Regions from separate parts of the Homo sapiens genome. Here region 2 is reported to be linked to region 1. Evidence: microRNA targets listed by miRTarBase, many of them from high-throughput screens and not tested one by one. Region 1 holds a microRNA gene; the other region holds the end of a gene's coding sequence.

Region 1 (5,326 bases):
AACTCCCTTCAGGACAGGATGATAGATGGTTCCTCCCAGGCGATTAAGGGAAAAAGACACAATGGGTATTCAGTAAGTGATAAGGAAACTCTTGTAGATGCAGAGTTAGGAAAATTGCCTAATAATTGGTCTGCTCAAACATGCCAGTTGTTTCCACTCAGCCAAATCTTAAAGTACTTACAGAATCAGGAAGCAGCCATCTATACCAATTCTAAGTTAATATGGACTGAACAAGGTCTTACTAATAGCAAAGAATAATTGAAATCCCAAACTTACAAGGTTTTCAACAAAAGTAAAGTTTGCTAAAAAAGTTAACAGTGTAACATGTATTATCCTAACTTCTAATCTTATGGAAATCAGACCGTATCTGTGCCCCTCAAAGCTCAAGTCTATCAGCGCAGGGCCATACAACTAATATCCCTACTTATAGGGTTAGGAATGGCTACTGCTACAGGAACCGGAATAGCCAGTTTATCCACTTCATTATTCTACTACCATACACCTTCAAAGGATTTCTCAGACAGTTTGTAAGAAATAACAAAATCTATCCTTACTCTACAATCCCAAATATACTCTTTGGCAGCAGCAACTCTCCAAAACCACTGAGGCCTAGACCTCCTCACTGCTGAGAAAGGAGGACTCTGCACCTTCTTAGGGGAAGAGTGTTGTTTTTACACTAAACAGTCAGGGATAGCACGAGATGCCACCTGGCATTTACAGGAAAAGGCTTCTGAAATCAGACAATGCCTTTCGAACTCTAATACCAACCTCTGGAGTTGGGCAACATGGCTTCTCCCCTAGGTCCTGTGGCAGCCATCTTGCTCTTACTCACCTTTGGGCCCTGCATTTTTAACCTTCTTGTCAAATTTGTTTCTTCTAGAATCGAGGCCATCAAGCTACAGATGGTCTTAAAAATGGAACCCCAAATGAGTTCAACTAACAACTTCTACTGAGGACCCCTGGACCGACCCACTGGCCCTTCCACTGGCCTAAAGAGTTCCCCTCTGGAGGACACTACAATTGCAGGGCCCCTTCTTCCAGCAGGAAGTAGCTAGAGTGGTCATCGGCCAAATTCCCAACAGCAGTTGGGGTGTTCTGTTTAGAGGGGTGATTGAGAGGTGAAGCCGGCTGGGCTTCTTGGTTGAGTAGGGACTTGGAGAACTTTTCTGTCTAGCTAAAGGATTGCAAATGCACCAATCAGCGCTCTGTGTCTAGCTAAAGGTTTGTAAATGCACCAATCAGCGCTCTGTGTCTAACTAATCGCGTAGGGGACTTAGAGAACTTTCCTGTCTAGCTAAAGGATTGTAAATGCACCAATCAGCACTCTGTGTCTAGCTAAAGGTTTGTAAATGCACCAATCAGCACTCTGTCAAAACGGACCAATCAGCACTCTGTAAAACGGACCAATCAGCACTCTGTAAAGTGGACCAATCAGCTCTCTGTAAAATGGACCAATCAGCAGGATGTAGGTGGGGCCAAATAAGGGAATAAAAGCAGGACACCGCAGCCAGCAGCGGCAACGTGCTTGGGTCCCCTTCCATGCTGTGGAAACTTTGTTCTTTCACTCTTCCCAGTAAATCCTGCTGCTGCTCACTCTTTGGGTGCGCACTGCCTTTATGAGCTGTAACACTCACCGCAAAGGTCTGCAGTTTCACTCCTGAAGTCAGCGAGACCAAAAGCCCACCAGAAGCAAGAAACTCTAGACATGTCTGAATATCAGAAGGAACAAACTCTGGACACACCATCTTTCAGAACCGTAACACTCACCGGAGGGTCTGTGGCTTCATTCTTGGAGTCAGCAAGACCAAGAACCCACCAATCTGGACACAGGATGTGTTATACAAAACTTATAGGAGGCTATTACTTTGGACTGACTTCCTACACCAGGCCCAACAAACTAAACCAAAATGGAGTCACTCATGCTAAAGTTTTACGTGATCAAAAAGAAACTAAGTTGTTTATCTGACCTTCTACAAAATCAGGAGAGAGAGAGATGGGATAGCCAAGTCTCCCACCAGGTCAGTTTTAGCCATCATGATAAGGATGTCCTCTCTGCTTTAACCTTTACAAGAAAAGTAACTTTGGGCTGAGTGCGGTGGTGGCTCATGCCTGTAATCCCAGCACTTTGGGAGGCCAAGGCAGGAGGATTGCTTGAGTTCAGGAGTTCAAATCCAGCCTGGCCAACAAGGCAAGACCCTGTCTCTGGAAAAAAAAAATTAGCTGGGCATGGTGGCACACACCTGTGATCCTAGCTCCTCAGGAGGCTGAGGTGGGAAGATTGCTTGATCCCAGGAAGTTGAGGTTGCAGTGAGCTATGATCGCACCACTGCACTCCAGCCTGGGTGACAGAGCAAGACTCAGACTCCAAAAGGAAACTTTAAAATGACCAATCCAAGTTTTCTTTTCTTTTTTTCTTTTTTTTTGAGTCGGAGTTTTGCTCTGCTCTCCCAGGCTGGAGTGCAATGGTGTGATCTTCGCTCACTGCAACCTCCGCCTCCCTGGTTCAAGTGATTCTCCTGCCTCAACCTCCTGAGTAGCTGGGATTACAGGCACCTGCCACCGCGCCCGGCTAATATTTTTGTATTGTTAGTAGAGATAGGGTTTCATCATCATTATCATGTTGGTCAAGCTGGTCTCGAACTCCTGACCTCGGGTGATCTGCCTGCCTCGGCCTCCAAAGTGCTGGGATTACAGGCATGAGCCACTGCACCTGACCTCCACGTTTTATTTTCTGTTTGTGCTTTACTTGGCCCTTTTTCTGCCTGTAAAACCAACCTACCTGCTCAGCTCATGGGAAAATTAGTTTCATTTTGTGAAATGAAGTGTTGCCCGATTGTAGAATTGCAAATAAAATCAATTAAGATCTTTAAACTAAATGTGTTGTAATTTTGTTTTTTTGACAGATGCCCAATGAACACCCTGGGAATGAGATCCAAGAGGCGATAATGGCATCTGCTCTAATAACTAGTACATTGACTCTAGGCTTAGATTATTCACCACTGAATAAATAAACGTATTTATTCAGCAGTGGGGAACTTACAGCAATGATGGGGACAGATACAGTCCCTGATGTCATCAGGCTGATATGCTGCTGACAGAGGACAAAAAACAAACAGATCAATGGGTCAGGAAAGCAAGGCTTTTTTTTTTTTGAGACAGGGTCTTGCTCTGTTACCCAAGCTGGAGTGCAGTGGGGTGATCATGGCTCACTGCAGCCTCGATTTCCCAGGCTCGAATGATCCTCCCGCCTTGGCCTCCCAAGTATCTGGGACCCTGGCATGATGCACCACATCTGGCTAATTTTTGTTGTTGTTCTTTTCTTTTTTTTCCTTTTCTCTTTTTTTTCCTTTTTTTCTTTTTTTTTTTTTTTTTTTGAGAGACTGGGTTTTGACATGTTGCCTAGGCTGGTCTCTAGCTCCTGGCCTCAAGTGATCCTCCCACCTCAGCCTCCTCAAAGGGCATGTTTTTAGGCATAAGCCACCGCAGCCAGCCAAAACAAACAAACAAAAAGTAACGTATACTTTGTGTTAATAATTTTGCATAGTATATTGAAAATTTGCCAAGAAAGTACATTTTAGATACTCTCACTACACACACAGTTAATTATGGAAGGCAATGGATAGGTTAATTGCTTAACTCTCATAATTGGCCATGTGTGGTGAAAATGCCTGTAATCCCAGCACTTTGGGAGGCCAAGGTGGGCGAATCACCTGAGGTCAGGAGTTCGAGATCAGCCTGACCAACATGGAGAAACCCCGTCTCTACTAAAAATACAAAAAAATTAGCCAAGCATGGTGGTGCATGCCTGTAATCCCAGCTATTCGGGAGGCTGAGGCATGAGAATCGCTTGAACCCGGGAGGCAGAGGCTGCAGTGAGCCGAGAGCACACCATTGCACTTCAGCCTGGGCAACGACAGCAAAACTCCGTCTCAAAAAAAAAAAAAAAAACTGTCATAATTATTATTTCACTGGGTACATGTGTATCAAAACACACGCTGTACACCCTAAATATATAAAACAAACACATACTGTATTGTCAGGTAGTGATAAATCCTATCACTACCTGACAATACAGCAGTATGTGTTTTATTTTCTATATTACCTATTTTTATATTTTACCTATGTGGCAAAATATAGGACAAAAGAGGGGTAGTGGTAGGAGGTCCTGTTGGAGAGCATTGGTATCCAGTAAGGATTTAAAAGTATTTATTTAACAAAGAATAGCAGAAAGTGGACGGTTGATTCACACTTGGTGCAATCTCGGCTCACTGCAACCTCCACCTCCCAGGTTCAAGCGATTCTCCTGCCTCAACCTCCTGAGTAGCTGGGTTTACAGGCACCAGCGACCACGCCCGACTAATTTTTGTATTTTTAGTAGAAACGGGGTTTCACCATGTTGGTCAGGCTGGTCTCGAACTCCTGACCTCGTGATCCGCCAGCCTCGGCCTCCCAAAGTCCTGGAATTACAGGCGTGAGCCACCGCGCCTGGCTGATCTGGTTATTTTCAAAAGATTCCATGAGACGGGTTTCTTCAGTTTACAGAGGAGGAAACTGAGGCACAGAAGGATAACCCAGTGAGTCCCAATATAGAGATGGAGACTGCAACCGAGAAAGGGGACCCAGCGCTGAGGTCCCCGGAAATGGTCATTTATGGGCTTGGGGGGCGACCAGGGCAGCGCGCGCTGACCTATGACGTCATCGGGACGTTAAGCATCGTAGCATTACCTGGACGTAGCCCCATTTCTCTTCCCGGACAGGTCCTCTGATAGTCGGGTAGGTTCTCAATCAAGCCTCTCATTAGTTATTTGGTCTGTCAATCCATTTCATTCCTGCAGTCTTCCGCCCCGCCCTCTTGAGCTCGCCCCTGATAGGCTGGCGCGTCCGTCACTTCAAAAAGGTCCGCATTCCTTCCGCCTTTCTCCAGGACACCGAGGGCGAGGAGGGTGGTACCAAGCGGCGCCCACCCTCAGAGCACTACTTCCATCTCTGATTGGCTTCGCTGGGTGCCCGTCGCTACTCCACTCGCCGCTGATAGGCCATTCAACCGCCGCTCTGCGCGGCGCCGGCTCCGCCCCCGTCGGGTGTTTGTGGTGGGGCTGCGGAGTCGCCGATCCCGCCGGAAGCGCCAGGACAATGGGGACCCGGGACGACGAGTACGACTACCTATTCAAAGGTGCGGCCGGTGGGGCACAGACGGGCGAAGTCGTGGCGGCGAGGCGGCGGGCAGACGGGCCAAGGCCGCGCTCCAGGCCGCTGGGCCCAGGCCGGAGCCCGGGGCTTGGGGCCCGGCGGGTCAGGCAGCCGGGAAGGCCGGAGCCGACCGGGC
Region 2 (5,334 bases), not on the chromosome of region 1:
CATCTTTAAACGGTGGCAGGCTGTCAACCAGCAGTGGAAAGTGCTGAACTATGACAAGACAAAAGACCTGGAGGATCAAAAGGCAGGAGGCAGGACCAACCCCCGGACCTCCTCATCCACCCAGGCCAATATCCCCTCCTCGGAAGAGGAGACCGCAGGCACCCCTGCCCCTGAGCAGGGCCCTGCCCAGGCTGCCGGCCACCCCTCAGGCCCTCTGTCCCATCACCACTGTGCTTATACCATCCTGCACATCCTGAGTCACTTGAGACCTCATGAACAGCGAAGTCCCCCAGGCAGCAGCCGAGAGCTGGTCATGAGAGTCACGACAGTGTGAGAGCAGAGGCCCGGAAGGAAGGCCATGACCACCACTGAGGGCCCGGAGCAGGGTGGGGAGGTGCAGTGGCACCCCCAGAGCCAACAGAGGGAGCAGGCAGAGGGTGGGGGACCTGGCGGGAGCCCTGGGGTAGTGTCAGAGCGGGAGTGAGGCTGGTGCAGGAGCAGTTCTGCTATTTCCAATCAGTCAATGCCACTCTCCACAACAACAATGAAAACCAACACCAACTCAACAACAAAGTGCAATACAGGCTGAACCTGGCCCAACAGAAAAACCCTGCCCCAATGCACCTGCAGGCAAGGTACCCGAAGAAGCAGAGGCTGAGGGCAGGCAAAGCCTGTGTGACTGTGGCAGTGCCGGAGGCCAAGGGGGCCAAGAGGAAAAGCATCTGTGGTCTGCTCTGCTCTCACCCTGTTTGGTTTTGTTTCTCCTGGGGCTGTGTTCTGCAGGCAGCCAGAAAAGGAGGAGGCACGGGTGAGCTGGCAGGGACACACTGCCTTTGGGGCTCCTGGGCTCATTTGGATGGGCAAGATTCGCTGACAAATGGCTGTGGGGATGGTGGGGTGGATGGTCAGGGAGGGATGCTCAGGGAGGGATATGCTGGTGTGAGCAGCCAGAGGGAGAGTGTGTCTCCTTCCTGAAGGAACTTCCAAATGGAACTCCCGATTTCAGGTGGGCTAAAAGAGGGCTTAGGTTTGGAAAAGGGTGTCCTTCTGTGCCCTTGTTAATTTATTTTATAGTGATTTGGTTCAAAGATGTTTACAGGACACACACACACACACACACACACACACACACACACACCCCTAGAGAAAAGTACAGATTTCCAGTGGATATTTCAAGCACAGTTCTGCTGCTGTGGCTTCAGCTTTGGAAGCTGTCAATCCCGGAGCAACTTTCCCAACTACCCAACCCCACCATGGCCAGGACATGTGCAATGCCAGCCCCTTCTTGTCTTGGCACATGCACAGACCCAGTCCCCTCACGGTAGGGCACCCCTGACCTACGGGCTTCCAAGAGAGCAGCTGCAGTGGTTGGGAGGAGCTTGACCAGTGTGCCCCAAGGAGTGGAGTAGAGCCCAATCTAAGTATTCCTTGCTGCTTGGAACCCTCCCTGTTTGGAACCCTCCCCAAAGAGGCAGTCAGGCTGATGCTCAGTGCTTTGTGCTCCCTGCTCCTTCCCGCGTAGCCAGGTGGGCCCAAGGGTGCCTGGCAGGGAGCACTACCCCTGGACCCCTCCTGCTCGCTCTGGGGACCCTGCCAGGGAAGGCCACTGGGTGTTCACCTGCAAAGTTTCTGGTTGTCACTGCACAGTGGTCGCGTCATCCATGGGTATTAAAAGGACACTGTCAAGTACTTTTTTAAACTAGTTTTTAGGGTTTTTTAAAACTCTCTGTTGTTTGTAATATTCTCTTAAAAGCTTGAAAATAAAACTTCTTTCCCTACCATTAGTGTCCCTTTCCATATGCGAGTTTTTCTTCCTCTTCCCTATCCTCCCTCTGTGGTGTAAACAGCCTTCTTTCTCCCTGTGTCTGCTCCATCCCTTGGAGCATTCTCCAAGGGATAGATTCTCCCCCATCACAAGAAATCAGGCACGTTTTCATTTCTCCTCTGAGGGCACGGACAGGGCAGGATAGGCAGGGATGTTCCCTTCTGTGTGCCTGTGTGTGAATCTGCAGTAAACTCCTGGCCTCTTCTTGGCATCCTAGCAGACAGAGTCCTTCAGGCCCCAGGCTCTCCCAAGGATTCTGCCCAGGAATCCTAGAAGCAGAGACCATGGGTGCTGGGGGCAGTTTGGAGAGCTCCACTTCATCTGGTCATTTCACAGAGGCTGGGAAAGCCACACACAGGAGAGGAGTGTTAGGACCTCATTGCCCTGACAGTGTCCTTTGACTATCAGAGGACAGCACCCACGTTAAGACCTCATGAGAAGGCTTGGACATATTATGAGGCAGCAGACAAGATCTTTTTTTCCCTTCAACTTAATCTGGCCCTCCCACCCTGGGGCTGGCTGTGGGTCAGGCAATGACATCAGTCGGGTGTGCATAGGCTTAGAAAGCTTCCTCCCTGATGAAGCTCAAAATCCAGAGAATTAAGAAAGACACACTTGGAGAGAGACCGAAGGACACATACAAGGAAAACATACAAACAAATGAAAACCAATCACACTGTGCAAATAAACCATGTAGAGGAAGCATGTTTATTTTTCAATATGGTCTAGGAACAGGGCTTTCAGTTTAAATAAACATTTATGGAGGCTATAGATGTGTTATATGGACTATCTGTTTTCAAAAAAGTATTACAGAGTGGGTTGCAGTGGCACATGCTTTAGTCCTAGCTACTTGGGAGGCTAAGGCAGGAAAATCACTTGAGCCCAGGAGTTTGAGGCCAGCCTGGGCAACATAGCAAGACCCCAATTCTAAAAAGAAAAAAAGGCTGGGCACAGTGGCTCATGCCCGTAATCCCAGCACTTTGGGAGGCCAAGGCAGGTGGATTGCTTGAGGCCAGGAGTTCGAGACCAGCCTGGCCAATGTAGTGAAACGCCATCTCTACTGAAAATACAAAGTTAGCCAGGCATGGTGGCACACACCTGTAATCCCAGCTACTTGGGAGGCTGAGGCAGAAGAATCACTTGAACCCAGGAGGCGGAGGTTACAGTGAGCCGAGATTGCACCACTGCACTCCAGCCTGGGTGACAGAACAAGATTCGGTCTCAAAAAAAAAGAAAAGAAAAAAAGGTATTATAATACAACAAAATATGCATATCATCAAAACTATAGTGGCCATGATGTTGTTTTTCTTTGGTGGTTCACAAGGCTCTTTAGACTCTTGCAGCCATTGAAGGTCATCATTTGAATATGTTGTACTGAAGAAGAAGAGGCAATTAATAATAAACTCTTGTAGGATGCTGGAGTTTATTGGATCTTGATAATGCAAGCTCCAAGAGAACAAAGACCTCATCTGCCTTGTTTACTGCTGTATTTTCAGGACCCACAGCAGTACCTGGCACACAGTAGGTTCTCAATGAATATTTTTGAATGAGTAAGACACTCTTGGAAGAGTGCAAGAGTACGTTCAGCATCTAGGAGACACGCCTCCTCTTCTTTCAACTTATGCTCTAACACACAAGGTCAATCACAGAGTAGAAAAGAAAGGTCAAGTTCTGACTTCTCCACCCAACAGGATGGTAATTTCCCAGTGCCTTGGGGAGTTGAATTTATGGGTACAGAAATGAATGAATTGGGGTTTTATATTTTGTATGCGTCTCTGGGAAGCAAGGTAAAAGTACACACTGATGACCAGAGATCACTGCCCTCTATCAGATGTGCAGATCATCTTTCATACCATGAGGCAAATGTCTATATTTCCTGTGGAATTATTTAATGCAGAGTAATGAAAAGTAGCGCAGAGTTCACTTGCACATCATCTGCAAGTATGACCCATGTATGGGGCAATATACTAGCTAACATCTGAAGTTCTTACTATGTGCAAGGCACCAAATGGAATGCTTTATATGTATTAATTCACTTAACAGTCCAGCAACCTGATGAAACAGATACCATTCTTATCTTCATTTTGCAGATGTGGACGCTGAGGCCAAGAGGTTAAGTAACGTGCCTACAGTCACCAGCCAGGATCCCATCCCCTGCAATCTGGCTTGCTTATTTATTTATTTATTTATTTTTGAGACAGAGTTTCACTCTTGTTGCCCAGGCTGGAGTGCAATGGCACAATCTTGGCTCACTGCAACCTCTGCCTCTTGGGTTCAAGCGATTCTCCAGTCTCAGCCTCCCAAGTAGCTGGGATTACAGGCACCCACCACCATGCCCGACTAATTTTTGTATTTTTAGTACAGACGGGGTTTTGCCATGTTGGCCAGGCTAGTCTCGAACTCCTGACCTCAGGTGATATGCCCACCTCGGCCTCCCAAAGTGCTGAGATTACAGGTGTGAGCCACCGTGCCTGGCCAGCAATCTGGCTTTCAGCATAACCACTCTGTCACATTTCCTCAAGACAACCAGCCAATTTAAGGAAAATCTGGATCAGGTCAACCAGGGAGATTAGAATGTGAGAGATCTACAGGAAAGCTTTGGAGATTGGGGTAAATACAAATAAATGATTTATGTCCCCTACAGAAAAAAAAGCTGAGTTTACATGACAATTCTTGCTGTTATATCCAGATAATATCATGGTTGAATGAAGCCTATATAATAGCGGGTTGGTTATATTTGAGAACAATGGAATTCTGAAAGGGCAATAGGAATAGTTCAATCATATTTTTATGGGGAAAGAGCCAAGATTCATATAGGTTCACAGAGGCCTCTCCTCCCAATTAAAAAATAAAAATAAAAAATTATCCTCTTTGGATATTAGACTTTTGGCACTGGTTCCAAATGAGTGGTGTGGAGTGGCAGGTTGGGGGTTCTAGTCACAGTCCACAGCATTTAGGAGAACCCCACAAATATGAGGTCTTGTCCCTACCTCTCAGGAAAATCAGGTGTCACCATCTTAGAACATAGAAACTCCAAAATCATAGAATTGTTTTAGTCTCTATGAGATAACTGTTATTTGTTTTGCCTGTGAGATCCGGATGTATGGCAGAGGGTAGGGGCATGGTTTGATAGGACCATAACCAATTTCTAAGGATAATTGTGTGTTCGTAAGCAGAATTTCTTGTATTGTGGAGGTGAGAGGGCAGCGGGGGTGGGAGGAAAAACGCATATTGTATTGTTCCTCGCTACCTTTCCTCAAATTATCCTGCCACAGCATTGATGCAGTAGTCCCAAAACCTTCTCCCCACACTTTCTCACCCCCCTTATTGGTAGAATAGAATATGGAAACTAGGCAATCCTTGGGGTGCTGTGGACAGTAGAGTGAAACTCCGGAATGACTCCAAGTGTGAGGAACTGGCCTCGTTCAGGGTCTGGGCTGCCTTGGCTGGTGGTCAGTGGGCTAGCTCAGTACCTACTCATCCCACCATGGGCCCCCATCATGGGTCCT

Evidence for each region. Region 1 holds the annotated microRNA hsa-miR-4999-3p (UCACUACCUGACAAUACAGU, at 4,028-4,047, opposite strand). A microRNA usually pairs through its seed, bases 2 to 8, with sites in the 3' UTR of a target mRNA and lowers its output. Matches are read on the target gene's strand: a 7mer-m8 pairs with bases 2 to 8, a 7mer-A1 pairs with bases 2 to 7 and ends in A, and an 8mer does both.
Region 2: the mRNA of MARCHF4 is a reported target of hsa-miR-4999-3p. Seed matches in the 3' UTR shown: 7mer-m8 at 463-469.

Annotation. Positions count from the first base shown.
Region 1 is chr19:8,385,284-8,390,609 of GRCh38, forward strand. MIR4999 (microRNA 4999) reads right to left here and starts at 4,097; the gene lies at 4,007-4,097. It overlaps RAB11B (RAB11B, member RAS oncogene family), which reads left to right and starts at 5,077. Exons shown (of 5, transcript NM_004218.4): 1 at 5,077-5,173. The coding sequence starts at 5,134. RAB11B-AS1 (RAB11B antisense RNA 1) reads right to left here. Exons shown (of 3, transcript NR_038237.1): 1 at 4,726-5,326. LOC124904632 (a long non-coding RNA gene) reads left to right here. Exons shown (of 2, transcript XR_007067128.1): 2 at 881-2,876. RefSeq lists silencers at 4,709-4,990, 5,210-5,326 and an enhancer at 4,740-4,939.
Region 2 is chr2:216,254,312-216,259,645 of GRCh38, reverse strand. MARCHF4 (membrane associated ring-CH-type finger 4) reads left to right here. Exons shown (of 4, transcript NM_020814.3): 4 at 1-1,781. The coding sequence ends at 334. Among named protein-coding and RNA genes, the nearest start is that of LINC01963, 40 kb to the right of the region's middle.